Homo sapiens: one gene and its partners. The protein of the gene in region 4 interacts with the protein of the main gene of each other region in a pairwise test. Each region holds a gene or a part of one and is shown on either strand. Other genes may lie near its edges.

Evidence for each region.
Region 1: the proteins of TM4SF4 (region 4) and MEP1B interact in a protein complementation assay, tested with the Homo sapiens proteins (one study listed by IntAct).
Region 2: the proteins of TM4SF4 (region 4) and KCNK5 interact in binary tests that used the Homo sapiens proteins (3 or more experiments, as listed by UniProt).
Region 3: the proteins of TM4SF4 (region 4) and GLP1R interact in a protein complementation assay, tested with the Homo sapiens proteins (one study listed by BioGRID).

Annotation. Positions count from the first base shown.
Region 1 is NC_000018.10:32,185,714-32,193,044, forward strand, and holds the start of MEP1B (meprin A subunit beta isoform 1 precursor), read left to right. Parts: upstream 1-4,325; 5' UTR 4,326-4,357; coding exon 4,358-4,420; intron 4,421-6,108; coding exon 6,109-6,127; intron 6,128-6,932; coding exon 6,933-6,977; intron 6,978-7,060; coding exon 7,061-7,104; intron 7,105-7,331. UniProt on the Homo sapiens protein: Membrane metallopeptidase that sheds many membrane-bound proteins. Exhibits a strong preference for acidic amino acids at the P1' position. Known substrates include: FGF19, VGFA, IL1B, IL18, procollagen I and III, E-cadherin, KLK7, gastrin, ADAM10, tenascin-C.
Region 2 is NC_000006.12:39,191,460-39,198,482, forward strand, and holds part of KCNK5 (potassium channel subfamily K member 5), read right to left. Parts: intron 4,529-7,023; coding exon 4,417-4,528; intron 3,302-4,416; coding exon 3,135-3,301; intron 2,879-3,134; coding exon 2,710-2,878; intron 297-2,709; coding exon 1-296. UniProt on the Homo sapiens protein: K(+) channel that conducts voltage-dependent outward rectifying currents upon membrane depolarization. Voltage sensing is coupled to K(+) electrochemical gradient in an 'ion flux gating' mode where outward but not inward ion flow opens the gate.
Region 3 is NC_000006.12:39,072,774-39,079,796, reverse strand, and holds part of GLP1R (glucagon-like peptide 1 receptor precursor), read right to left. Parts: intron 6,936-7,023; coding exon 6,782-6,935; intron 6,188-6,781; coding exon 6,028-6,187; intron 5,484-6,027; exon of another isoform or gene 5,416-5,483; intron 2,268-5,415; exon of another isoform or gene 1,884-2,267; intron 1,476-1,883; coding exon 1,415-1,475; exon of another isoform or gene 1,330-1,414; intron 901-1,329; exon of another isoform or gene 841-900; coding exon 771-840; intron 686-770; coding exon 597-685; intron 234-596; coding exon 95-233; intron 1-94.
Region 4 is NC_000003.12:149,469,976-149,477,718, forward strand, and holds the start of TM4SF4 (transmembrane 4 L6 family member 4), read left to right. Parts: upstream 1-4,721; 5' UTR 4,722-4,902; coding exon 4,903-5,076; intron 5,077-5,847; coding exon 5,848-5,937; intron 5,938-7,743. UniProt on the Homo sapiens protein: Regulates the adhesive and proliferative status of intestinal epithelial cells. Can mediate density-dependent cell proliferation.

The DNA of each region.
Region 1 (7,331 bases), on a different chromosome or scaffold from region 4:
TTGCCTGGGGAAAAATGAACACCAGAGGTGGACCAATGACCAAAGGCAGAAAGGTTCCTGAGATCAGATTCCTAATGCCATGATGAAGCTTGTAAAGGCTTTCTAGGGGCAGGATACAAGTGATGAAAGCTGGAGGTATGTTAGACCAGCCAAGTGTAGCTTCTGCAGTAGAGCTTCATTGACAACCTTAGAAAAGAACAAACTGTAAAAGATATCTATTTATTGTAGGCAAAATACATTTTTTGGAAATTGGATTTCAGCCATGCCTCAATGACTTCCATGAGATTCCTAGTGAGGCTCTGCCCATGTCCTGTAATTAGGATTCAAAACAGACTCCAACATCCTGGGAATGATTGCTTCCTGTTCTTCCTGCTTCCACTTTTCCTAACTTCAAATATGAACTGCTTGTAGCAACACAGAGAATTCACTCAGGTGTTTCAGTTACAAATCTTGGCTCATAGAAACAGCTGTGCTTAATAAATGTCTTTCCTTTTCTTTTTTTTTTTTGAGACAGAGTTTCACTCTTTTCAGCCAGTCTCGAGTACAATGGTGCGATCTCAGCTCACTGCAATCCCTGCCTCCCGGGTTCGAGCAATTCTCCTGCCTCAGCCTCCCAAGTAGCGGGATTACAGGTGCCCACCATCACTCCCAGCTAATTTTTGTATTTTTAATAGAGACGGGGTTTCGCCATGTTGGCCAGGTTGGTCTTGAACTCCCGACCTCAGGTGATCTGCCCCACCTTGGCCTCCCAAAGTGCTGAGATTGCAGACTTGAGCCATTGTACCCAGACTGTCTTTATTTTTCTATAATCATACTTTTTTCTTTTTCTTTTAAAATTTTTATTTATATATAATTGTTTATATTTTGGGAGTACATATGATGATCTGATACCTATATACAATGTATAATAATCAAATTAGGGTGATTAGGGTATCCATCAACTCAAACATTTATCTTTTCTTTGTGTTGGGAACATTTCAAGTAATCTTTTCTTGCTATTTAAAAATATATAATAAATTGTTAGCTATAATTTACCTACTGTACTATCAAATACTAAATCATTTATTTTATCTAACTATACTTTTGTACCCCTTAACCAACTTCTTTTCATCTCCTCCTCCCTTCCCTTCCCTTCCTAGCCTCTGGTAACTACCAATCTACTTTCTACCTCCATGAGATAAATTTTTTTTTAGCTTCCAGATATGAGTAAGAACATTCGATATTTGTTTTTCTGTGCCTGGATTATTTCACTTATAATGACCTCCAGTTCCATTCATGTTGCTGAAAGTGTCAGATTTCTTTTTTATGGCTGAGTAATATTCTATTGTGTATATAGACCACATGTTCTTTATCCATTTATATGTTGACAAATACTTAGGTTGATTCTATATCTTGGGTATTACAAATAGTGCTGCAATAAACGTGTGAGTGCAGATATCTCTTCAATTTACTGATTTCCCTTCTTTTGGATATATCCTCAGCAATGGAATTGCTGGATCATATGGGAGTCCTATTTTTAGTTTTTTGAGGAACCTCTATACTGTTTTCCATAATATCTCTACTACTTTACATTTTCACAGTGTACAAGTCTTCCTGTTTCAACACAACCTTTCCAGAATTTGTTATCTTTCGTTTTTTTTCTTTTATAATAGCCATTCTAACTCAGGTAAGATGATATCTTATTGTGGTTTTGATCTGCATTTCCCCGATGATTAGTGGTGCTGAGCATTTCTTCATATAGCTATTGGCAATTTGTTTGTCTTTTTTGAGAAATATCTGTTCAGGTCTTTTGCTCATTTTAAAATCAGATTATTTGTTTTTTTTGGTATTGAGTTGTTTTAGTTCTTTATATATCTTGGTTATTAATTCCTTGTCAGATGGATAGTTTGCAAACATTTTCTCCCACTCTGTGAGTTGTTTCCTCACTTTGTTGAGTGTTTCCTTTGTTGTGTAGAAGCTTTTTAGCTTAATGTAATCCCATTTGTCTGTTTTTGCTTTGGTTGCTTGTATCTTTGAGGTCTTACCCCCCAAAAATCTTTGCCCAGACCAATATCCTAGAGCATTTCTACCATGTTTTCCTTGAGTAGTTTTATAGTTTCAGGTCTTACATTTAAATCTTTTTTTGTTTGTTTGTTTCTTTGTTGGGTTTTTTTTTTTTTTTTGGAGACAGAGTCTTTCTCTGCCACCCAGGCTGGAGTGCAGTGGTGCGATCTCGGCTCACTGCAACCTCCGCCTCCTGGATTCCAGCAATTCTCCAGCCTCGGCCTCCAGAGTAGCTGGGATTACAGCTATGCACCAGTGCAGTGCACCACCATGCCCAGCTTATTTTTGTATTTGTAGTACAGACAGGGTTTCACCATGTTGGCCAGGCTGGTTGCGAACTCCTGACCTTGTGATCCGCTTGCCTCGGCCTCCCAAAGTGCTGGGATTCCAGGTGTGAGCCACCGTGCCCAGCCACATTTAAATCTTTAATCCATTTTGGGTTGATTTTTGTATATGATGAAAGACAGAGATCTATTTTTATTCTTCCGTATATGGATATCCAGTTTCTCAGCGCCATTTATTAAGAGACTGTCCTTTCCCCAGTGTAAGTTCTTGGCATCTGGTTTCTCTGGGTTCTCTACTCTGTTCCATTGGTCTGTTATAATAATTGATATTTTAGGTTCCCATTCACATAGATGTCAAAAATTTAATTGCGGCTAATTCAGGATTCACATTTTACCTTTAGGCTTGTGCCTAACCTTAATTAACAGTCCCAATGCATTGGGAAGGTCCCTTATGATCCCTGATGTCATCTATCCTCACAGGCATCCTCTAAAATATCAGTCCCTCTGTCTGGTCCTTATTTGTGATTCTGTGCAGCCTGCAATGGAGACATCCTTATTCCTATCCACATGGCTCTTCAGGCATGACAGCTTTTTCTGATACTTCTATGCTTCCCTTGGCCCCAGGAGTTATTCTCCTCTTCCCAAGATGTGCCTTCTTCTGTAGAGTCCCTTTGCTTCCTTGTAGCTCTAGCCAAGAAACAGGACCATTTGATTTTGGATCCTATAATATATCTAGGGGATCTCAGGGATCAAGTGAAGAACTGACTATAACTACAGTTTTCAGTTTTCCCATTTAATTCTCATCCTACCCTCATAGGGTGGGAAGTGCTGGCTTGTACTCAGGAAGCAACCTCTCAAACTCCTTGTCTATGCTACATGTCTCTTGATAGTCTTCCTATTAGCACAAAATGGGGTGAAGGCTAAGCTGGAGAGGGGAAGGGGAAACTAGAAAAAAATTAGGTTTTTTTTTTTTTTTTGAGATGGAGTGTCATTCTGTTGCCCAGGTTGGAGTGCAGTGGTGTGATCTCGGCTCACCGCAACCTCTGCCTCCCAGGTTCAAGTAATTCTCCTGCCTCAGCCTCTCAAGTAGCTGGGATTACAGACATGCACCACCACACCTGGCTAATTTTTGTATTTCTAGTAGAGATGGGGTTTCACTGTGTTGGCCAGGTTGGGCTTGAACTCCCGACCTCAGGTGGTCCACCCACCTTGACCTCCCAAACTGCTGGGATTACACATGTGAGCCACCATGGCCAAAAATTAGTATTCAAAAAATATTATCCTGCATCTTAAGTAAGTTGAATATGAAGCCATGGGAACTGAGAGAACAGGTTGTTTCTAAAGAGAAATTATCCCAAGAAAAGAAGGAAAAAGTGAGAAAGAATTAAGAGATGGATTGGGAACATTATTTTATTAGAAAATCAGTGACCATTCCTACTTTTATGACCCATGTCCCACCAGTGTTTGCTTGATGGGAATTTTTAGGGATGAGATACATTGCTATGTTACTACTCTATATGTGAATAACCGGTGTGCCTGATTTCTAGCACATTAATGGATTTTATAACTCAATAAATTATAGGCACTCAATAATTTTTATTAAATGAGTGAATGATAAAAAGCAGTGGACATAACTGGATATATTAAAGCAGCATGGGGCTATATGAGAGGAGGAGTTTCATAAGATCAAGATTAAAAATTAATTTGATATATATATTTTTTGCTTAAGTGGTGTTTACTAGTCTAAGGACCAGTACACATACATTAGAGAATGTATTCATTAAGAAGTCTCAGCCAGGCACTTAATTGTTGACACAGGAAAAAAAAAAAAAAGCCAACAAACCAACTCCGCAGAGCTGTGTTAAAAATACTGGACTTTCATCCCTTGATTGGAGGTATTATTACAGCATCAAGCTGACCTGCAATATGGATCATTGAGATCAAAGGCTATAAATTATAATGTTTGCCTTTAAAGAAGTCAATTCAACCCTGAATGTCATAGTTAGCTACTTTCAACTGGAAGCTACAACATGGATTTATGGAATCTGTCTTGGTTTCTGTTCTTGGATGCTCTTCTCGTGATTTCTGGCTTGGTAAGGAAACAGTATATAGAAGATAATTTAAAAATTTTGGGGCAGTTGATATTGATTGTTAAAGAACAAGTGTTTTTTTTTTGTTTGTTTTTTATACATCTTGAAATGTTGATCTCAAATGAGTGTTTCTTCTTGGAGATTAGGGGTGGGCAGTGTGTAGGGAGTGACAAATAGCCACACCAGAGTAGAGACATTGATATAAAGTTATGTTTTCCTTTCAGTTTCATCATTGTGTAACAAGTTTTCTTTTGATGAGATTATAAATGTGTATTTTGAAAATCATTCCATTTTTACTGCTGAATGAAATGCAGATTGCTGCACAGTAACTTGAGACATGAATGAGTGTCACAGGCACCGTCAGTACTTACAAAGTTTTATAACGTGGTATTTCTCTTATGCTTCTTCATCAGTTTAGACTCATCCTTCTACAGTTTGGACTAATCTTTTCTATCAGGTAGTTTGTATCACAAACCAACCCAAGGTTTTAAATGAAGTTTCAAATGGCTAGTGGAAAACCTTCAGTTGTTATTTTAAAATAACAATTATTATATTGGGGTGATATTCTATGAATAGGAACTAGAACATTGCAAACAAGAGATACAGATGAATACATGTTAAAGTGTAATTAGGAATAAATCCTTGATAATTTTATTCTGTAGGTGCACTGGCATTCCTCTATGAGTGTATGCCTGTGTGTGGTTATAGTGTGAAACATGCAAAGCACTTGTTAATGTCAAAAATGATGGTAACCATCCATCCAGTTCATTCCCACATTTTGTTAAACGCTCCAAATGATTCTAGTATTTAGATATGTAAGCTGTATTTGAATAAAATTGTACTTTACACTTTTGTGACAATTTATTATAGCTTACAATGAGCCTTCTTTCACATTATATACTGTAACCCTCACAATACCCATGCAAAGCAGGTACTGACCATATCTTATGGATAGTCTGAGTACCTGGAAGGTGAACTGAATTACCCTTAGTTAGTAGAACTGGTAACATAACCCAGACAGTCCTATGAGCTTTTTAATTCAATCACACTAAGACATTTCTCAGGTTTACTTAGTTGTTTTTTTTTTTTTTCCTTTGGACATGTAGTCTGAGTTTCATTGACCATTTGTGGAGAATCTATTTTCAGAAAAAAAATTAATCACAAAATGTACCCATTGTTTTTCTTAAATATTTGTATTGTCTTTGAAGGCAGAATTATTCTGGGAGAAACATGAATGCAAAATAACTTGATTAATGAGTCTTGAATAACATTTCTTTTTAAAGAATTGTTATAAATTACAGTATTATTTCAACATTGAGAATAAATTATTTGGTTTTTCAAACATTGCTCCATGAATGCTTTAGAAAATCGTGTGTAAAGTGAGCACTTATTTGAGAGCTAGAGTCTTATGTTCTGCCTTTTCCCCCCCAATTTTTGAAGTTGGTTTCTTGTTTCCTTCACCTTCAAATTGATTTAACAGGCAGTTTCATTTTCCATATGAAATGAGAAGACCCTTTGGTCAAAAAGTCATCTTAAACTTCAATTTAGCCATCCTAAATACATGTCAGGAAGTAATCCATAATATTAATGACAAAACAAACAAACAACAAATGGTTAGATATAAACTGAATCCAAGAAGACCATTCCTGGGCATTATAATAATATGTTTTGTTTATGTGTTTATTTCCCAGGCAACTCCAGAAAACTTTGGTGAGTCTATTTTGAGTTTTGTTCTAGGTTATAGAGAACCTAGGACATATTTAATGCTAAACATCATACATAATTACATATGCATAATTGATGCATAATTGCATTGAACTTTGATCTAATACTGGATTCTTTTGATTTATGGAGGGACATTTTATTGTCCATGTTCCAGGCTTCATATGCCCAGCAAAGAAATAGATGGTATAGGAAAGGCCAAGCACAGTGACTGACACATAGACATCCCATAAATGCTTGCTATTATTGTTTTTGTTATTTTGTGTCAAATCAGATGGACCTAATAATAACAGTCTACTCAGTATTCACTTGCATACTCGGAGATTTGGCCATATTATATACACCTTTACAACTTAAAATAGTAATTCAAGTTTAACTTAAGAATTTTGCTTGAAAGTTCCAAGGTATACTACTAGCAAGTGATATACATGTATGAGTAGATTGGGCTAGTTTGACCAAATTTAATCATTTGTTTGCTATTTAATCTAGTCTTCTAGTCTTTCAAATTATGCTTAATAATATATGGAGCAACCAATTTCTTATTCCCGAAGTCATTTGACATTCAAGGAATGTCGATAGGACAGAATACATACATAAAAGCTCTTTAGAGCCCAACCTGGCTCATAGGAGATTCTTAATCAATCAATCAATCAATCAATGTATGTTGAGTCTGAATCTAGTAGTCACCTGAGGCCAAAAGAAACTTGCTTAGTTCTGATTATATAAATGATAAAGGTTTTCTCCTTTTATAAACATAATGTTCAATTTTTTGTTGTTGTTGTTTTAATCAAAGATGTAGATGGCGGAATGGACCAGGACATATTTGATATCAATGAAGGTTTGTGGATTTTTTTTACATAATCTCTTAAGTAGAGAGTTTGAATCCAATTTGCTAACATGAATTTTTATCTTTACTCTTAGGTTTGGGACTGGATCTTTTTGAGGGTGACATCAGACTTGATAGGGTGAGTTGAAACAGTATAAGGAAGAATCTTCCATTAACCACTGCAAGCCAAATTCAGAGTAACTGAGAAAGATTAGACAGCATGAACTTTGTTAAGCCTAACTATCTCTAAGGGTGCAGAATCATGGTGACACATTTATTCAATGAATATATTATACTCAAAGAAATGCATATAATTGTGTCTTCATCTTTCATTACTCATATTTCTGTGTGGTTCAAGCCACCATA
Region 2 (7,023 bases), on a different chromosome or scaffold from region 4:
CTTCCCGATCTGCTTGATGAGGTCGTTGTAGGTCTCTTCCTTCTTGGAAAGAAAGCTGAAGATGTTGACGTCCTTGGAGGCTGTGCTCCCCTTCACCTGCAGGGCCTTCCGGGAGTGTGGGGAGCTCTCAAAGGACTCCTTCCGTCGCCGCCGCCGCTTCTTAATGGCTTTGTGGACTTCCACAAACATGCTCACCTTCCAGTTGACAAAAAGGGACAGCCAGGCCAGCCCCAAGTAGATCCAGAGCTCCACGAAGTAGCGGTACAGGGCGTGGTAGTTGGCGCTGGGGTTCACACCTGAGCGGACAGGCAGTCCAGAGGTCAGGAAGAGTTAGCAGGGCCCGGGAAATGTGCAATGGCCAATGCTGTGTGATCTGAGCAGGGGTCAGGCCAGAGCACAGGACGGGGGTGCAGTGGGATAGAAAGGGGCCTGTTCTAGACCCTGGACTATCCCATCTTCCTCAAGGGCTTGGGCCTGCCATCATTCATGACCCCATCCCAGTCTCCAGCCTGTCTCTGAGTCTCGGTTTCCTCAACTAGAAACGTCAAGACAGGCCAGGCATGGTGGCTCACGTCTGCAATCCCAGCACTTTGGGAGGTCAAGGCAGGTGGATCACTTGAGGTCAGGAGTTCGAAACCAGTCTGACCAACATGGTAAAACCCCAGCTCCACTAACAATACAAAAATTAGCCAGGTATGGTGGCGGGCCAGCTACTCAGGAGGCTGAAGCAGGAGAACTGCTTGAACCCGGGAGGCAGAGGTTGCAGTGAGCCAAGATCACACCACTGCCACTCTAGCCTGGGCAGCAGACAGAGACTCCGTCTCAAAAAAAAAAAAAAAAAAAAAAAAAGTCAAGACAGTGACTCTTTGAAGGAAGCTAAAGGGGCTTTGGGGGACTGGCAATGTAACCGACACACAGGTCAAGAAACAGTTCATGAGTATTTGCCTTTCTGTTAATTCTTCTACCATCCCCAGCTGTTCTGCGTATATGATACAGTTCACTTAAAAACGGAATGGATGGATATTACACAAGGGAGCCCCCAGCACCCTCCAAGCTGGGGCTAGACTCACACTGGTGGATTACAAACAAGGCTGGTGGTTAGGTTGAGATGACCCAGGAAGCACCCACCGTGGCAAGAAACGCTGAACCATTTTTATTTTCATTGAAGGTCTGGTCTGCCTCCCTGACTTCCTCAGATCAGCTCTCCCTTGACCTGGAGGAGGGCTCTGTCTGCTCCACATCCCCCTCCTGCTGCAGGGAGCCTTCTTGGCTTACCCCCTACAGCTCTGAAGGTTCCCCCTACACTCCAGGATTATTTGAAATGTCGTTGACGACTACATGTACAGGCATGTTGACCTGTATTCCATTTGCCCCCTCGACTAGATACAAGAGCAACTTACAGAAGGGACCTGGAGGAAGGGGGCTACCTCTCTCATCAGACTAGAGGTTCCTCCAGGTGCTGTAGCCCGGTCAGTTCTCCTCCCACGACCGGGCTCAGATAGCAGGTGCCCTGAGTGGTCCTGTTAATCCTGCTCAAGGCTCTCAATCACAAGCAGAGTTTCATGATGACAGTAATGAGGGCACACACTGATATAGCCAGGCCCTACCCTTAACACTCATGAATAGTAATTATTATTTTTACTAATTTTACAGAAGAGAAAGCTGAGGCAGGGTTTGGTGTCTTGCTGGTGCTGAGAAAGTATGGCTAAGTGTACATCTGTATTTCCCTAATACCAGAGGCACCTCCTTAGCCTGCTCTGGGCCTCAAGGGCTGGACAATGGCAGGGTTGTGCCTTGTCCACATGTACTGCCCAGGACAGCAGGCCCGGACTTGGCAGGGTCAGGGGAGTGTTTGTGCCTCTCTTTCCTGTTCCTCCCCCAACTCAGCCAACTGCTCCCAGATGCCACATACATCAAGCACAAGGCTAGTGGCCTCCCACTGCCCTCTGGGCAAAAGGGAGGGGGTACAGAACAGAGGCCTCTGGAGCAGAAGTTGAGGTCACTGGGGTGGTGGGTCAACAGGGTCAAACAGGGTGTCAAGAAGATTAAGAACCAAGATGCTGTGCAGGCCACAAACACAAGTACATGTGTGGCTGGGGCCAGCTGGTAACAGGCCTTCAGACAAAGGGGCCAAAGAACCTCATCACTTCCCTGGATTAAGCAGGGGAGGAGTAGGAGGGAGTGTCAGGGCTGGGGGCAGGGCAGCTGGGGAGAAGGCCTCCCTTGTCTTTAAGCTGCTACAGCAGGAACAAAGCCCCAGGCCTCTGAGCCATGCCTTCAGGACACCTCCCTCCACTCTTGTGAAAGATGAAAGGCTGCTGAGGGCGTGGAGTGGGTGCTGGTGGGCTCAGGGGCTCCCTGGGTAGCAGGTACCAACCGTGCAGGCAGAAGGCCCTACTTGCAAGTCCCCCATGAAGCCAAGCTCAGGAGTCATGGGAGAACTGAGGGAGAGGAGATCAGAGACTGAGCAGAGAGGAAAGGAGGAGGAAAAAGGCCATGTCTGAGAAAGGGAACCAGAGAGAAAAGAGTTTTTTGTCATTACTCTGGGTCTTAGTTTCCTCTTGCAAATGGCAGAGTGGGTTGAGAATCCCACTGGGTAAGAGAAGTGCCCAGAACATGGAACCCTACCTAGGGCACCCCCAACATAGGTCTGTTGCACTGAAACCAAAGAAGCAGAAAAAGAGGTGGGAGGCAGAGGCAGGGACTCACCGGCCACAAAGTCACCGAAGCCGATGGTGGAGATGGTGATGAAGGAGTAGTAGAGGCCCTCGATGTAGTTCCACCCCTCAGTCACCATGAATACGAAGGGTGGGATCACCAGGTGGACTAGGACGCCCCACACGATGAAGATGACTGTGCACGTGATCTGCGCCTTCCGCTGATGGGGAGCAGGAGGCCAAGTCAGAGAATAGTGGAGACTTGGAAACCCAGCAAAGGCACCCAGAGGGCCAGGGAGGCAGCTAGAGGAGAAGCTAGCTGGGTACCCAGCCTGACCCGGGAGGGCAAGGAGCTCTGAAACTATCCTCTTGCCATCTGTCCTTACACCCTTGGTCCAATTCCTAGAGGCCTCCTGTCCTCCCCTCACCTGTCATGGTTCCCCCATCTCTGCCCAACACCCAGGGTAGGGGACATACCAGACTCACACCTCTCTTGGTAAGGAACTGCCCTAGTCTCTTGGCACGTCCCCCGAAGAACTTGCCCAGGGCACTGATCCACGTCAGGCAGAGCGGCACCCCGAAGAGACCATAGAAAACACAGAAGAGGCGACCGGCGGGGGTCTTGGGAGCCACATTGCCATATCCTGAGGAAGGAGAGAGTGAGGCCAAGAACAGGAGGGGTGGTCAAACCAGTGGGCCTTGCTTCCAACACACACACAGCCCGTTCTCTAAGATAAATTGATATTGATCTATTGTCAGTACTTAAGTAATGATATTTCCCTTGATCATACTCTGATCATGATCATTGATAAAGCAATTATGATGACATGAGCTGTATCTCCTCCATCATACAAGGAGCTCCCTGAAGGCAGGGACTAAGCCTGGTCAACAGGTCTTCCACTAGTCTATATGGTACCACTGTGCAAGTTATAAGACATGCTCTCTGTGTAGATTCCCCAGAAGCACTGTGGTAGATGGTCTCCAAAGATAGCCATCCTCCATTCCCTCCCTTCTTATGCAACTGCTCACATCAAGGTGTCATCTAATCCTCTTCCCTTGGAATCTGGGCTTTAGTGGCTTGACAACAGAAGCAGTCTAGGCAGCGGAAGAGACGCTGGACAGGTGAGGTCTAAGAAGCCTGCTGCTTTTCGCCTTGGTTCCCAAACACATGCGGAGGCCTTGTGTTTTCATCCCCAGCTGAGCTCCCAGCCAACAGCCAGCATCAACTGTCAAATCTGTGATGGGAGGAGCCATCTGGGCCATCAGATGAGTTTGGCTTTCAGAAGACTCCAGCCCAGCCATTGTTCGACTGCCACTGCATTGGGAGCCCAAGCAAGAACCAGCCAGCTGAGCCCAGTCAAGCTGACAGAATGGTGAAAGAGAAGAAGCTGCGTTCTGAGCCAAACTTCTGGACTGGTTGGCTATGCAGCCTGAGAACTGAAACAGACACCCAGCTTGGTAAGTAGTCATGATCTGGGTTTCTGCAATGAGCAGTCTGGTTAATCTCTTGCATGGCTCTGGCCATGAGGCTGTGTCATTGTTTCTGCTCAAAGAGCCCAGGTCAAGACTCAAGGAAACCTTCCCAGGCATGATCAGCTACCAAGGACTTAACAAATCCCTAAGAAAGTATCAAAAGAATAGCCTGCAACTGATCTGATTGTACCCCCAACAGGGCTGAGTGACCAGAGCTGGGTTTCTAGAAAGGTTCTGAGGAGCTAGGGCATGGATGTGGGTGTCCTACAGGTCCCAGAAGACTTACCAATGGTGGTAATGACGGTCGCTGCAAAAATCATTGCATTGGGCCAGTTCCAGTTGTTGAAGGTCTGGTTCCCTGTGATGGCCACACCCTGTCCTGCAGCATCAGATACCACCTAAAATGAGAAACAGTAAAGGTCAGAGCTGAGGCCACACTTAACAGATGCTGATTGACAGAACTGCACTAAACTCCTTGTAAGCATTTTCATTTAGTCATCACAAGAAGAAGGTGGCAGTGTCTCCATGTTACAGATGAAACATTGTATAGAGGATCAGAGAGGTTACCTGATTTACCCAAGGTAAAGATATGAACCCAGGCAATCTGGCTCCAAAGTTCATTCTTTCACTGAGTCAATGCTTCTCCAACTTACTAGCATGCACCAGGATCACCTGGAAATCTTGTTCAACAGACTGCTGGCCCCTACTACTCCGAGTTTCTGATTTAGGAGGTCTAGAAGGAACATTTCTAAACATGTTCCCAGGTGATGCTGTGGACAGGGACCACACTTTGAGAACCACTGCACTAGATTAATTCTGCCTCTCAAAAAAAGCACATGTGAGGCAGACACACACAAGGAGGTCCCCTGTGCCTCACCCAGCCCTCCATGGAGGGTGTTCTACCTGCAGAGACCAGGTCCTTGTTCAGGGTTGGCTGGGGAGGGGCCCCCCATATACCCTTCAGCCTACTGTAGGATACCTGCTCAGGTCAGCTCAGTGCCCTGTTGACTTGTCCTCGGAGGGCATGCAAATCAGCAGGTCCTCCTTTCCCCCAGCCTAGGACTCTAATGTACCCTCTCCCCTGTGGGATCTCACTTCCCTCCCTTCCCTGTAGCCCTTTCTCTCTCTGCCCTGGGCTGAGCAGCTGTCTGGGAAGGGACAGATCAGAGGGTGAGTACATTTCAGGGTGACTCATAACTGTGCTATCAATCCCCAAAGAGCTTCCAGTAACTGTGGATAGCAGGTGAGAGGCCACCTGGGGATGGGATGTCCCCCTGGAGAGTGCGAGGAGCGGTGGGGCAGAGGTGTGGGGAACTTATCTACTCCTACAATACTGACAGCTGCAAACCTGTTTCCATCTGACTAGGCCCCAATTCTGCTATCACCACTGGCTCCAACCTATCTGTGGGGCTTTATCAGCTGGCAGGGCCTGGACCCCAGAAGTCACATAAGAAGGGACTCTAAATCTGGGGCTCAAGTCCTGTCCCCAAGGAGCGCCTGCAGATGGGTAGGCCATCCAGACCAGAAGCTAGGCATTCAGCCAAATTGCCTATAAAAACCAAGACAAGGACTGAGAGAGAAGAGACAGAAGAGTGAGGGATGGAAACAGAGGGAGACAAAAAAAACCTTGTTTCTAACCTACCCAGAGCATGACTGAGGTTTGGTGGGAAAAAAAGGGCATGGGTGGGTTGTTCTGAAGGAAAGTGTAATTTGCAGAAGCAGCAGCCGGCCTGCGTAAATGGATCTGCACACTCTGCAAAGAATTTTCCATGATGGCACGCTTGTCTGTCAGACCATCAAACCACACAGCTCACTGCGCTGCCTCCTCCGGCATTTCACAGCATCTCCGAGGCTACGAAGGCTGTGCAGCATCAAAGTGGAAAGTGGGGACCATCGCATCAAACTCTGGCCAAGGCAGCCCCTGCCCTCAGAGAGCTCTCTGTCTAGCTGGCCAGACCATTTCAATGTGAAATGGCTAAAGGACATTTAGATACTAACAGGCCAACAGGAGAGCTAAAACAAATACTAAGGACCATCCAATGGGTTTCTGAAAACATCAAATCTGTTTGGAGCAAGAGAATGAGGAAGTACCAGGGCCACGTTAATGTTAAACAGATGGCAGAGAAAGCGGAACCACCCAGCTCTCCTTTGGCATCTACCTTTGCTACCTCAGATATCGATCTTGAATGGGACCGGCCTACAAGAAAAGAGTATATAAGAACATACAAGAACATCTTGAAATGATAATTGAATCACTGATCACAGGTGAGGCTGCAGCACCACCTCTGGTCATCCCCATGGAATCATGGGGAACAGGAAAGATGTCAGAAGACAAGCTGTTCCCATTTTTCACAAAAAGGAAAAGAGTGGATTCTAGAAATTCAGAAAACAAACCTGAACTCTTGCAAACTTCAAAATGGGGAGAGGAGAATGTTTGGAACATGCAGAAGAGGAAGTAGTGGGCACTAGAAACTAGCACAGATTCACCCAGAACAAGTCATGCTCAGCTAAGTGCATCTCCTTTTCAAAGGGTTGCAAAGCCTTGAAGTTCTGTGGAATGTAATCCATCTAGATATCAGCAAGGCAGCTAACAGATGGGATTAAAGAAATTCATGTGGACAAGACACAGAAATGTCAGTGGAGCCAGGATTAATTGGGTCCATTCAAAGGCAGACAAACAACCCTAGGAGGTATTGATCATTATCAACCCAGACTGAGTCTCCACCATCATGCTTAAGGCCTGGTTTTCTTCAATATTTTAAACCACAGCACAGTGAGGACAGAGATGGTTTACTAATCCAATGTGCAGTGGATGCAAAATTGGGGATAAGGATGGGATGGGAAGATAGCTAACACATAGCAATGGCAGTATCAAGATTCAAAATCATCTGGC
Region 3 (7,023 bases), on a different chromosome or scaffold from region 4:
CTTCCCACCTTTTCCATCTGCATGATGCAGGCTGGTGTCTGTCCCACCCCCACTCTAGGACTTTACAAGCAAGTGTCCCCAAGCATGAAGTCACCTGGAAGGAGGTGAAGGAGAGCTCTGTAAACAGCTTGATGAAGCGCAGGGTCCCCCGGGCGTGCTCGTCCATCACAAAGGCAAAGATGACCTCATGAGTCCCCAGCAGGGGGATGAGTGTCAGCGTGGACTTGGCAAGTCTGAGGGGCAGGGCAGAGATCTCGAGTCATTCTGGACCTCTCCCATGGACTCTTCTTCCCTTTCTCTACCCTCCCCACTTCCTACCAAGTCCTGATATCTGGGTCATGGATGTTCTCCCACCCCAAATACCCTGGGACAGGCTGCCTGGAGGGAAAGAATAGAGGTCAAGACCCCAACAAGTCCAGGGGCTGCCCAGAGACAGGGCAAAAGCAAGGGTTTGGGGTCCAAGGCCAGGCCTGGGTGGAAGGAGAGGGTAGTGTAGGGCTCTAAGCTAAGCATCCCAGGATCTCTCTCTCTCTCTCTGCTAGAAGGAAAGGGGCACTTGCTGAGGGTCCTCAGTAAAGCCAGCTCAGTTACATCACCTGCATTTGATGTCTGTCTTGCACATGAGATTGGCCTTCAGTTTGGATACCACGATGCAGATGACCCGAACAAAGATGAGGAAGTTCACCTGCGGGGTGGGGCCGGGGATTGGCAGGGGGCACCAGCCCAGCCCTATCATAGCTGCCACTCCCATCCCTGACACCATCACTCACCCCAATGGCAAAGAGAATGGGCAGCCGGATAATGAGCCAGTAGTTCATGTTGGAGTTCCTGGTCCAGCAGCTGGGGAGGGAGAGAGATGCACACATGCATCCAGCAGGACTCACAGGACCCCCAGCTCAGGTGCAGGCACAGAGGCCGCCAATGCACATGGCCATGTTGAGTGCCACACACACAGCTCCCAGGAGCCACCCAAAAACCAGTCCCATGGACCCACAGAGCCCTGCCAGTGCACAGCCACACAACACACACGCATAGTCCAAATACACAGTCATACACAGAGATGCACACAGCCCCCAAACAAGCTTTCAAGGACCTACCAACACAGTCATGTGTGTACCCAGCATCATATACAAAATGACACAAACATTTCACTTGCAGATATTACAGAAAAACCTGCAGGAGGGCACCATGTACCCCACAGACCCAGTTCCGTTAGTCATCAAACAATCCTGGGACAGGGGCAGGGGCAGGGGCAGGGGCAGGGAGGGGAGATTAGAGAACTAAATTCACCTTCTAAGCTCCTGGTACCCCCCTTTATCCTCTCAACAGATGGGTGCCCCAGGTACCAAGGAATCCCATGGACCTTGAGGATGGGGACCTGGGCACACCCGCCCCCTTGGAGCAGGACACTCACCCCTCGTCCTCATAGAGGTACTTGACAATGCCCCAGGGGACAACAAACAGCAGGGGAACACCTAAGAGAGAGGGAAAGACAGAAGGGGAGAGGGGCTGGCAGGCCAGAGCCACAGTCTACATGCCGAGGCCTCTCCCTGCCCCAAGCCCCTCACACTTCCAGCCCCTCTCCTTGCCTGGCCTCCAACTATGTTTTCTAGTTTTTTTCTGGGCACCTGGGAGAACAGAGGCAGCAGGAGCCCCATGCGGACCCCCAGACTCTTCCTTACAGAGAGGTCCTCATCAGTCATCAGTCCCCCACCTCCTGTGTGCCAGGCACACTGTCAGGACTTGCCCTCAGAGTCCCGGCTAAGTTACCAGGCCACAGACACACAAACAGCAGCGGGACTGGGCCATGCGGTGGGGACAGCATGACGGATGAGGCAAGGAGCAGGCGAACCCTCTGATGCCCATTTTCTCTCTTGCTTCAGCCCACGTTGCCAGTCAACTCCTAAAGGCACTGGATGTCCTTTCAGTCATCTCTTCCCTACCACTGTGCACCTTCAAGAGGGCTCGGCAGAATCCTGGAATGGAGACAGGAGCCCAGTCCTTGATGCCAGCTGACCAACTAACTGTCCGCAGTGGCCTACAATAACAACAGCTACAACAATACTACTTTCCACTCGGCTGAGACTTGACTTGTGTAGTAGACAGCCTCTAAGATGGCCCCTAGGGATCCCCACCTCCTGTGCTCATACCCTTGGGTAGTTAGTCCACGTTGTATCAGCATTGTTTCATGTGACCCAGGAACCTCTGGCAGAAGTGATGGCATGTCACTTCTGATTGTTATAAAAGACACTGTGGCTTGTTTTGCATTCTCTTTCTCTTTCTCTGATCACTTGCTCTGGGGGAAACCAGTTGCCATGTGCTGAGAGAACTCAGAAGGCCTAGATGGAGGTCTCTGCAGCAAGAAATGGAGGCCTCCAGCCTTTGGCCAGCAACTGCGGCTTCCTGCCAACTGCCTCTTGAATGAGCTTGGAAGTAGATTCTCCATCCCCAGTTAAGCCTTGAGATGACAGCAACCCTGGTGACAGCTGGCTGCTTCTCTGAGAGTGCCCTGATCCTAGAAGGAGGTCTCAGAGAGAAGGGACAGCAGGGGGTGGGGGATGCCCAAGAAGGAAGTTTCTATATGTGTATGTGATTCAGGAAATCCACATGCTCTTGCCTAAAGAGTTTTCTCTGTGAGATCCTGAGCCACAAGGTACCCAGCTAAGTTGAACCGAGATTGCAGGCCACAGGAACTGTGAGATAACAATGGTTCGTTGTTTTAAGTAGCTAAGTTTCAGGGTTAATCGTTCTGCAGCAATAGAGAATTAATACAACTGGTTCCCAGTTCCTTGAGGGTAGAGCCTGGGCCTCACTCACCTTCAGAGCCTCAATGCCCAGATCACCCTGAGAGCTCAGGGTCTGTGTTGGTTGATTTAAAATTGGATTTTCCTTCCTCACATGACATATGAGGAGATGGATCAGGGACTCAGAAGGGCACAGGTGGGGCTCGAATTCAGGGCTGCAATCCCATACCCACTCCCACCGCCCTCAATGGCCTTCTGCACTGGCTGTCTCCATGCTCGTCTCCGTTGGCCCCTCCCTCAGTGTTGGAGATGTGTCTGAGATAGGTAAGCATGTGCATATTAAGGTATGTAGACATGTGTGTGTGAGGGTGTGGTGGGTGGACCATGAGTGTGCACGTATGACTTTGGGAATCTCTGCCTGGAGCACATTTCCAGGACAGAACCACTTCATAGCCTTTCCTGTCACCATTGTCTATGTCTTTAGCACATCAGTGTCCACTCAACAGCAGCTACTAAGCAGGTTGTGTGCCCAGATCTACTGTGCCTGATGATGCAGGGAGAGATGGAGGAGGCAAAGGAGCCCCCAGCGGACCAGCATTCTTCATCAGCTCTCTCTCTCCTGGCCCATTGATTTCTACACAAATCGGACCTCTCAGCATCTACGGTGCTTTAGTAACAGGCCTTTATGAGACTGGACAAGGAATGGGATGGTCTCCAAAGGCCCCAGCACATGGTACAGGCCCTGCCACATAGAAGATGCCCAGTGAGAATGGAACGAATGATGGGTGAGTCAACACACCAATAAGGGAAGGAACATTGTCTGGGCAAGAGCATGCCGATTTCCTGAACCACGTACACATGCAGAAGCTTCCTTCTGGGTATCCCTCGCCCCCTGCTGTCCCTTCTCTCTGAGACCTCCTTCCAGGATCAGGGCACTCACCCATGTTATCAGCCAGACCTGGCAAGTTTCACTCATCGTCAGCATTTCCTTAACAAGGCCTTTTCAAAAAACACAGTCACGAAAGCCCTGCTGCATGCAAACATTACGCACTCCCTGCTGGCTTCATCTTTCTCCCATTTAGAAAACGAGCAAGACAGGTTGGAGAAAAAAGCTCAAATTAAGACACACACAACTGGCTCCAGGAAGTAATGATTCCCTCAACCATCATTTGCCTCCCTCTTGCACAGCCTCCATGTGGGTTTCTACAGGCCCCCAACTGCCTGGGGACTGCAGCAGAAGCTGCCATGCCCTTTGGGGGACCTCTCCAACTGTGTCAGAGTCCTAATTTTAATTCTTCCACTTGCACATGAAGCTGAAAGTTGTTTCCCAAGTATCCCAGCTTGGGCAAGGCCTCCTGGCATCACGTCTGAGCTCCTAGCAACCTGTGAATCTCTCTCCGTCTCCCCCACCCCAATCCTCAAGAAAAAGGTGTTCTGATTAGAGCAGGGTGTCCTCCGGGTCTTGCCCTTGTGCTCCCACAGACCCCGAGCCCTGAGCTAGGGTGTGAGGTGGTAGGAAAAGGACTTGGCACTCCCTCCCCCATCTCCCACTCAGAGACCTCTAGGGCAGTGTGTCCCCACCAAACTCCAGCCACCCCCGCTCCTCTGCACACATCACACACGTCCCTTGATTGTTCCTGCCCTCGGGTCGCCATGGTGACAGGCACTAACAGCGCTGATGCTATTTCCTAGAATGGACAGACACCGTCCCCCACCCTGAAGACAGCCTTCCCTGAGCTGCCCTCGATGGCCTCCCTCCTCCTGCTCTAGCAGGAGGAAGAAGCCTCGGGGAGAAAAGGCCAAGGAAGGGACTGGGTTCTGGGAGTGGAGGAGGCAGGTGAGGAGCAGGGATCTGTGAGCAGGAGCCAGGCCTACCTGCCCACCTGTGCAGAGGCCTGAGCCTGCTCAGGGGTGCTGCAGGGGACTGAAGGGATGCAGCCCAGGCAAGAGAACAGGGCATGATGGCCGCAGGCCCAGAGCCTGGGAGTCAGGAGGCCTGGGTTCCAGGGCCTGCTCTGCCTGTAAGGCCCTGCCAGCTCTGGGCCTTGGTGTCCTCAAGACACTGGTCACATTAAAATCTCTCAGGCTACTCTTCTCCTGGGGGGTGGGGGGAGCTGTATAGAGAAAAATGGCTGAGGAACACCAGTAAAAATAAATGAAGTGCAAGGACAGGGGATGGAGAGCTTGAGAGGGCAGAGAGCACAGAACCACGAGGACTGGTGGCCTGAGGCAGCTTCCTGAAGAGGCAGCGGACACCCTGGTGTGGGAAGGATGCTCCCTGAACATTCCTGCATGGAGAACAGCCTTGCAAAGGCTCAGGGACAGGACCATTGTCAGGGAAGAGGAGTCTGGATGTGACTGAGCTGGAAAGTCCCCGGAGGTCCGTGGCAGGGGCAGCCGTGGTCAGAGCAGCGTGAGGTGGGCGCATGAAGGAAGGAGGAGTGAATGAAGGAGTGGCAAGCAGGGCGGGGGATGGTGTGGAACAGGAAAACTCATGGATTCAATGGCAGATTAGGGAGGACAGAGGGCAGGGCCTATTCTCTGGGTACCGTGGGTCCCTCCAGAAAGGCCTGTTGCATGTTTTCCCAGGGGTGAAGGGGATCCCAGCCCCCTTCCCAACCCCAATGCTGCCCCTCATTACAATCCCACGTGGTGAGAGGCAGAAGCACAACCAGAAATGTTCCAGCAAAAAAAAAGACACAATGGTTCTTGGCAAACTTTTTTGGCTAGAACATTTCCAGCTGGGCTCCAGGCACATCCGCCGTCCACCCTTTCCTTGGCTGGCCTCTGGCCCCCCTGCCCCACTGTACTTGGCTCTCCTCTGAGCCCTCCTCTTCATCGTCATGTGACAGAGCACCAGCAGGCTCCCCCCAGCCAGCCCCCTACCCTCTTGATCCCCTCCCCACCTTGAGGCCCAGGACTCACCATTTCCCTCAGGCCCTCGGGCTGCCCGGGACTGGGTGTGAACTTATGTCCCCATGTGGTCTTAAGAGAACAGTGCCATGACCTCCAGTGGTGTGCATGATAGTGGTAGAGGGTGGTGTTTGGCCACATGCGGTGGAGGCTTCCATTAAGGGAGGAGAGTTATGCAGAGGAGGGGAGGACCATAACCCCCTACGGCATCTTAACAGCACCGGGGCAGAAGGTCCTGTGCCCAGGAAGAGGGTTACCCAGTGGGCCTTGCCCCTTGCTCAGCAGTGCGTTCCAAGTACCATGTTAGAAGAGGGGTCAAGGTCTCCCACCCCCGTGCCACAGGTCCAGGGTGGGTGATGGCGGTTCTTACCCCAGCCTATGCTCACGTAGAGCCTGAAGATCCATTGCTCAGATAAGACCGAGAAGGCCAGCAGTGTGTACAGGTACACGCCCTCCACCAAGAGCCAGTAGTAATTGGCCGCCACACAGTACTGCATGAGCAGAAACACCAGGCGGCAGCTCAGAGAGTCCTGGGGGTAGAGGAAGGGTGTCATGGGGACAACAGCTCTGCCCTCTGCCTCTCTTGATACCACTCCCCGTCCTGCTCCAGCCACTATCCTGCCATGGTTAATGCAGGAGGAGAGAGCTCACATCTCTGGCTAGGGCTAGTGCTAAGGACTTTATCTGCTTTAGCTCATTGAATCCTCACTATCCTGATTGGAAGAAAGTAATGTATCCCCCTGCAGGTGAGAAGTAAGTGACTTCTCACCTATTTCTCAGCCTCAGAGAAGTAAGTGACTTGCCTAAAAGTGTACAGATAGTAAGTGACAGAGCTGACATTCAAACTCAAGTGTGTCTCCAAAGACTACTCTTTTGTGTCAGACTGAGAATTCCCTAGGGCAGTGTCTCCTCCCTTAGATTGGGAGCTCCCTAAGGTAGACTGCCTCTCTCAGCAGACTGGAGGGTCCCAAGGCGAACTGCCTCTCCCATCAGACTGGGGGCTCCCGAAGGGCCAGGACTGTTCGGCTCTTGTCTTCTCCTGTCCCAGGCCTGTCTAGGGTGGCAGAGGCAGGCCTCCTCCAACCGCCCATCCCTCCTGAGGCGGTCCTGGATGCACCACACACCTGGTAGGAGAGGAGCCCATCCCACTGGTGCTGCTGGGCGGCTGTGCTATACATCCACTTCAGGGCTGCGTCCTTGATGAAGACGGACAATGCTCGCAGGATGAAGGATGCAAACAGGTTCAGGTGGATGTAGTTCCTGGTGCAGTGCAGGTGTCTGAGGGAGAAAGCAGGGCCTTTCCCTGGCAAGGCAGCCAACAGTTCTGCTCTACAACCCCAGGCTCTCAAGCTAACACACACATTAG
Region 4 (7,743 bases):
ATCGCTTGAGCTCAGGCAGTGAAGGCTTTGGTGAGCTGAGATTGTGCCACTGCACTCCAGTCTGGGTGACAGAGTGATACCCGGTTCCAAAAAAAAAAAAAGATAACCAGAACAGTGTTTACCACTTGTTTTTGTTTCCTCATCTCTAAAATAGGGACAATAATGTCATGTAATTGCTTGCTTCTATAGAGCTCGATGACAACTCTAGATAGTGAGATAGAGACATCTGAGAGGGAGGTCTGTTTCTTCTAGTTCTCCAGACCATGTGGCCCTTTAGTAGTTCAGCCTCTCCCAGGACCCCGGTGCTTTAGGGAACACTCATGTTGAAGTGGCCCAGGCATGGAGGAGTCAGTCATGAAGCGTCAGAGCTCTTAGAGAATAGTGACTGTCTTCCCTTAGACAAAATATTTCACATTTCTTTGTTCGTGGAGGCCAAGTTGGCTCTCAACCCTGCTCCCAGCTCACCAACTTGGCACCTCACAATCTCCCCAAATCGTGCTTCATCCCATCTTCCATCTTTGCTCTTGTTATACTTCCTTGTCTCAAATCACCCCTCACTTTCTCTCTGCCAACACAGATTCCATCACAAGCACTTGGGAAATGAGTAAGCTCCAAGTTTTCCAAAGGATGTTCTGGAAAATCCTGGTCCTGCCAGCTACAGGATACAAAAGATGGGTTCTGCAGGCATTGAAGCTTGGAAAACGCTGGGTACTATATTTCTCAGCTCTCCAATAATTACACATGCACTTGCAAATTAAAGGCCCTAAAAAGTTCTCATTCAGAGCCCTATTTTGCTCTGTGTTATTCAGATTTCCCAAACATATCTTGACAGTAAAACAGTTTTCTTATAAAACAAGACTTCTTAGAAAAAGTGACCACTGAGCTGAGTCCTGGAGGGGTGTAGCAGGAAAGCAGGAGAAGCGGGCAGAGCAGGAAGCAGGAAGACAGGAGGGCTGATCTGGCTGGAAGACAAATCAGGGAGGACTAAGTTTAAGATCTGAGGGCCATGGAAGCCTCCTGAAGGCTTTCAGCAAAAATGTAATATCAGTTTAGCATTTATAGAGATCACTAGTTCTCACTTTATAAAGATCACTAACTTTCACTACCTGATTTGATCTTTATTTTTTGATTGAAGACCTATAGTAAGCAAAACATGTTGCATTATTACCTAACATCTATGCACACATAACAAAAATTTCATAAAATGGCTCTTATTACATGCAATGCCCACTAATATTTTCTATTATTTTTTTCCTCCTTTGGAAAATCACTTTTAACAATCTATTTTCATCATCCAGGTAAGCAAAGATGAAGACCTGAATTTTATTTGAATGCAAATGTGTGGAGACCCCTGTCTTCTTCCTGATATTCTGTGTGAATAGATGAGAATGCTCTGCTTTAAGACAAGCAGAAGAAGCCATGTCTTGTTCTTCTGCTAAGGGGCAGTTACTCATTTAACCTCTGTGTATGGCTTCTCTTGTCTCTTGTCACAAGTAGAAGGTTGTAACATCATTGAGGGCAGAAAGCAAGTCTTAGATTTATTTTATTCACAAGGACAGTATTTGGCACATTGGTGGACATACCATGCATGTAACAATACACTTATCGATTGCACTGAATTGACAGCTCTTCACCCATTTCAGGGTGAATGTCTTCTGCTCCTGTGCTTGTTAGCTGAGGAATTGACTTCCTGCATCACTGGAAGGAACCCCTAGACTTCCTGCTGCTTAGTCCCGTATGGTCAAACCTCACATCCGGTGAGGTCCATGGAGATAGTGCCCATATTCACATTCTTCTCCTTTTCTTCCCCCAAGGATCCCTCCTGTCTTTCTATCCCTTCCAGGGCTACTATTTGCTCTCACTTCTGAAGTCTCCATAGAAGGCTAGTGACAGAATGGGGCTTAGTGTCCTCAGCCACTTCCTTCTTGCTGTTTCTGAAAACAAGGGAGTTAGCCTTTTTGGTTTAAAGCCTTCACTGCTAAACACCCAGAGGAACAGAATAAGCAATAAACTATCAAGTAGGAGTATCACAAAAATGATTCCCAGAATCTCACACAATTTTCCCTTGCCCCCAAAGCAGTCTGTTGGTGACCTCCCTGCTACACTTCCAGAGAGTGAATTTCACCAAGGTTCCCATCCCCCCCACGATTCCCTCTCTCCAGATTAGATATTCTACTTCTTGCCTGGAGGTCTGAAGGCACAATTAATAATTGAACAATTAATGAGTTAGTCACTATCCAAGTGTTTGAAGTCTGAAGTGGTCAGGGCATTCCAGGAAAGTGACTGTTTTTCAGTGTTTCTCTTCCTCTACCCAGGAAATAAGTTACCTCAGGCTTGAAAGAAAACTGAAGTGTGGTCCACAATATTTCTTACTTTCATCTAGTCACTCAGACAGTATACATGGGTAACTCCAGTTGTGCATCTGAAAAATCTAGGACAACAGGGCTAGTGTTGGTCAAATGCCATGATGGTAACTTCTAGAAGCAAACGGTGTAGTCCAGGGAGAAAGGAGAAAGCTGCCCAGTCCCCAGAGAGAAGCTGCCTAGCTCTAAGTAGCATATGCATTTGATTAACCCAATCCACTCACCCCCAGGACTGTTGCCTTTAGAGTTCATATGCTCAAGACTCCCTGTCAGAAGCCAGTGGGTTATAAATAAAGTTCATTTGCACCTGCCTGGAGTGTTGGAAAACAGCTGTCAGCACAGTGATGACAGCCCTTGTTTGCTTCTGGTGGAAACACAGCTGGTTTTCTTTTTCTTCCTTTTGCTTGTCTGTATATCCAATTTTTCTACCAAAAAAAGTCACATTATTTTGTAATAAGGAATAAAATCACAGTTTGTTGTTGTGTTCAGAAGGGTCTCCTACTGTGTGCATATACCTCACACACAGTGTCATTCTATTGTTTATATTTAAAAGATGATGTTTTGTTGTTTGTTTGTTTTCAAAAAGGAAAATCTATGAGAGAGAACATAGCCTGGGTTTTGGCAACACAGAGCTGGAGAGGAGGTAGGCTAATGGGTATGAACATACAGTTAGCCAAAGGGATAACCTCTGTTGTTTGACATTACAGTAAAGTGACCATGGTTAGTGATAATGTATTATAGATTGCAAAGTAGCTAGAAGAGAGGACTTAAATTGTTCCCAGCACATAGAAATGATCAATATTCAGTGATGGATACCCCCAAATACCCTGGCTTAATCACTACATATTCTACACATGTAAAATATCACACGTACCCCATAAATGTGTAAAATAGTATGTATAAATAAAAAATAAAATCTTAGCTCTTCTTCTTATGCTGAGATGAGCTTGCAAAAATCACTTTGAGCAGAAGCATCCCCACTTGTGAAGGGGGCATGACACCTTCTTCACAGAAGGGTGAAGAACATTTAAGGTGCTCATTCGTGCTTGGAGTATTATGCATGGCTCAATAAACATTTGCTGTTTTTCTGCTTTCTTTCTCATCCTGACCCTGAGATTTCTAAGTATCTTTATAAAGCAACCAGTACTCATTTCTTAGAAATTTTAGAAGGAGCCTCAACATTTTTCCAGTCTGACTTTTCTGGAATCCTTCCCACAGCTTCCCTTTCCAAGGGCCTCTGAGCCTTGGCAAAGCCCAGTCCATGGCTTCCTTGTGAGCAGGTGGCCTATTCCACGGTAGGACAGGTCTTACCATGGTAATAATGTCACTTGCTTTTTATTTAGCTAAAATTTGACTCCCTAAAATATTCGACCTATTTTAACCTCTAGATTCTCAATGAAGAACTAGTAAGACTTCCAGTTCCACCTCTTAATCCTTCAGCTGTTATGTAATACCAGTACCAGGCAGGGCCATCGCATAATGTAGAGCTTGGTCCAGGCGTGGCAGAGAACTTCTTAAGTGACACAAAGCAAATGAATGAATCATGCCCCTGGCAGTTGGCAAACTTTCTAATAGGGGTGTGTTTTACTGCCTCCTGCACTCTATAACTGCTCTTCCAACTGTGTCTTCTCCCCAGTCAACTCATCAGGACCTTTTCTCTCCCTCTCTACCAATGCTGACCTTCCTTTCCCCTTAGCCTTAGTGGATGATGGTTTCTTTATTCCTATATGGAAGACATAGCTGAGAAAGTTGATTAGGAAAACTGTTTTTGCTAATTCCATCACATCGTGTAGGGAAAAGATAGAACTTAATTACTTAATTGCGTAACAAGTAGAGAAACACAGCAATCAGACAATAAAATGAACAGTAGCTTTTTGCCTTAAACAATTCTTTTAAGTCTGAGCTCAATGATACACAACTAGACCATCAAATTATTTTGATATTGAGGAAAACAGAAGCTCTTTTGGATAACCCTGAATTCCAGGCTTTCAGTGGAAAAGACAAAGACACGCACTGTACACCATTAAGTACTTGGGAGACATGATTTTAACCAGGATGTAACTCAATTATATTAGTGATTTATAAAGAGTCTGGAGAAAATATTTCTTTATTTGGGCATGGGCACTGTCAGATTAAAGGTGCAGTGGTTCTAAATGCTGTTTGTTCCAGCCCTGTCTTCGATTGCAACAATGTGAGTGTCTTGTCTGTGCTGGTGGATTATTAACAGAGGTTATTGGTCTCCATGGCAAAACGATTGAATGATTGCTCTGAACGTAATCTCATTTATGGGGGTGCAAAAAACAAAGCACTTCAGGTCAGGGAGAATGTATAAATGTCCATTGCCATCGAGGTTCTGCTATTTTTGAGAAGCTGAAGCAACTCCAAGGACACAGTTCACAGAAATTTGGTTCTCAGCCCCAAAATACTGATTGAATTGGAGACAATTACAAGGACTCTCTGGCCAAAAACCCTTGAAGAGGCCCCGTGAAGGAGGCAGTGAGGAGCTTTTGATTGCTGACCTGTGTCGTACCACCCCAGAATGTGCACTGGGGGCTGTGCCAGATGCCTGGGGGGGACCCTCATTCCCCTTGCTTTTTTTGGCTTCCTGGCTAACATCCTGTTATTTTTTCCTGGAGGAAAAGTGATAGATGACAACGACCACCTTTCCCAAGAGATCTGGTTTTTCGGAGGAATATTAGGAAGCGGTGTCTTGGTGAGTAGGGAAGCTTAAAATCCCCCTAAGGGAGATTTTCCCTTCCCCACAATCCTTTTTAAATCAGGTACTTATTGAACAGGGAGATATTTAGTTGGTAATAGAAGCTCAAGCATTGCATGGTGAGAGGTCAATGCCTTAATTTTTTTCTCGTTTCTGTTAGGATCTGACAAGGACACGTCAGCTAAATTTACTAAGTAATTAATCTCTAAGCTTGGGCTGACAGTTCTCATGGGTCATTTGAGTCCCATGAACCGAAGTGAAGGTCGCATAGTTTCTTGATTCCAACAAGATAGTGCCCAAAACAATAACAACAACAAACCCACGATGCAAACCCACTAGAAAAGCAAATTGACTTAAAACCACCATGAGAAGCTGTTGTCAGTGTGGTCGTCTTCCACTTAGGACCTAATGATTTCTTTACCTCTGGTTTCCAATAGAATTGGGAACCTCCGTTTGAGAGAGTGAAAGGGAGAGAGACTCACTCTTCATGACAATTGAGGAAAAGTTTGTTATTCTTTTTTCTAACACACCATCTAAATGGAAACTCAGATTTTGAAATCTTGCCTCATTGAAGCTGGTTAGTCAGCCCAAATGGAATCTAAGTACTCCATAACACTCCATTACCCCTCCAGCCATGCTCTGTTACTTTGCCATTCCCTTTGGGCCTCCAAATCCCTCATTGTGGATGGGGCTCCTTATACAGTCAGGCAGGCTCGGGCCCTCCCTTCAACTCCTGGACTCTCTCTGAGGTGCCTCTTCTCCTGGTAGATGATCTTCCCTGCGCTGGTGTTCTTGGGCCTGAAGAACAATGACTGCTGTGGGTGCTGCGGCAACGAGGGCTGTGGGAAGCGATTTGCGGTGAGTTACCATGGGGGGCAGCTACTAGAATTACTCCAGGGTGCTCTGTGCTTTTGTGCTGGGCAGCATGGGGATGGAGACAAGTTATCAGCTCCAGCCAGGACTCTGGGAGCAGCTGGTGAAGGGATAAAACTGTGATTTTTCCTGCCAGTGTGAAATAATAATAATTTTCCAAAATACCATAGCCCTCATACTTATAGGGTATGAATATTGTATTAGATTTTACAAACCGACAGGGATGTCAGAACTGGAGATTCAGAGGGGTCCCATATACAGAATGCAAGCCTGGAAGGCAGAGATGAAGCTGCAGCATTCCTCTGCCACTGAGAGGCCATAAGAACTTGGACAAGTCATTTCCCTTTTCTGGCCCTGAATTGCCTCATCTGCAAAGGGGACTTGGGACAGGACAAAAGATGGTATCCTCCCCTCCCCAGTAGGCTTCTAGGTTCCTCACTCACACCACTTCCATGTTCTCTATTTCTGAGGCCCAGCGCCTCTGGCTTCCACCAGGCTCTGCTTCAGGACTTCTGTTTCCTCTCTTGTTTCATGCGGCCATCGATCTTGAACTAGAGACGTTAGGCATCAAAGTTCCAGAGTGCAGTGGAAAGAATGCTGGGACATGGGGACAGGACCCATTCTGCAATTGAGCAAGTCATTCTACTGCTCTGCCTCCCTTTGCTCATGTATAAAGCAGGAAGCTGGACTAGACCAGAATTTCTCAAGTATGGGACAAGCTCTGGTGCTACACAGATGTGCTATATCTTTCCACAACATAGAATGTCATTCCCATTCAATTCTCCTTCAATCCTTTTGAATCTATCAATCTATCAAGAAAAAGATCTTATTTTGGTAGACATAAGTCTTTCTTTTTTCTTTTCTGTTTTTTTTTGTTTTTGTTTTTGTTTTTTTTTTTTTTTTTGAGACAGGGTCTCACTCTGTTTGCCCAGGCTAGATCTTGGCTCACAGCAGGCTTGAACTTCTGGGCTCAAGTGATTCTCCCACCTCAGCCTTCCAAGTAGCTGGGAGTACAAGTGTGCCACCCCACGCAGCTGATTTTTTGTATTTTTAGTAGAGACAGAGTTTGGGCATGTTTCCTAGGCTGGTCTCAAACTCCCGGACTCAAGCAATCCGCCCACCTGAGCCTCCCAAAGTGCTGGGATTACAGGTGTGAGGCACTGTGCCCAGTCGTCTTTACTATTTTTTACCCTTTATAATCTCCCTTTCTAACAAAGAGAGGACAAGTCTTAGGCTCCAGGAATGAATGCAACGTTGTTTAACTAAAATGCAACTATATTGTGTTTCTATCTGCCAATGATTCTAATTTTTCATTCATATAGTGATATAAATGAACACAATGAGAGCTGACAAAAAATATTAAGAGTTAGATATATTGATGAGGCAGAAATGAAGCATAGTAGAACTGGAATTACTGGTCTGAAAAATGAGGAAGATCAGTTTCTCCTGTAATCTCCCATGGTTCACATGTCCACCTAAAAGATTCATGAACCACAATAATGAATTAACCACATTTACTTTAACTTCCTAAAGGGAAAGGTGCATCTATCCATTCTGAAACAGGATCCTTTTAACATTTCTTTCTTAGCATTATTTGTTCATTTATTCAATCAAAAAATATTGAGCACATGTGAAAGGCTGAGGCTGCTCCAATGTGCATACATTACAGTTTCCATGTGAGTTCAAAGGTCAAAGAAAATATAACATCATGAGTCCCAAAAAAGTATTGATGATTGTTATGTTAACATTTAAAATCATCATTTACAAAGAGTTCTTTTTAAAAAACCCACA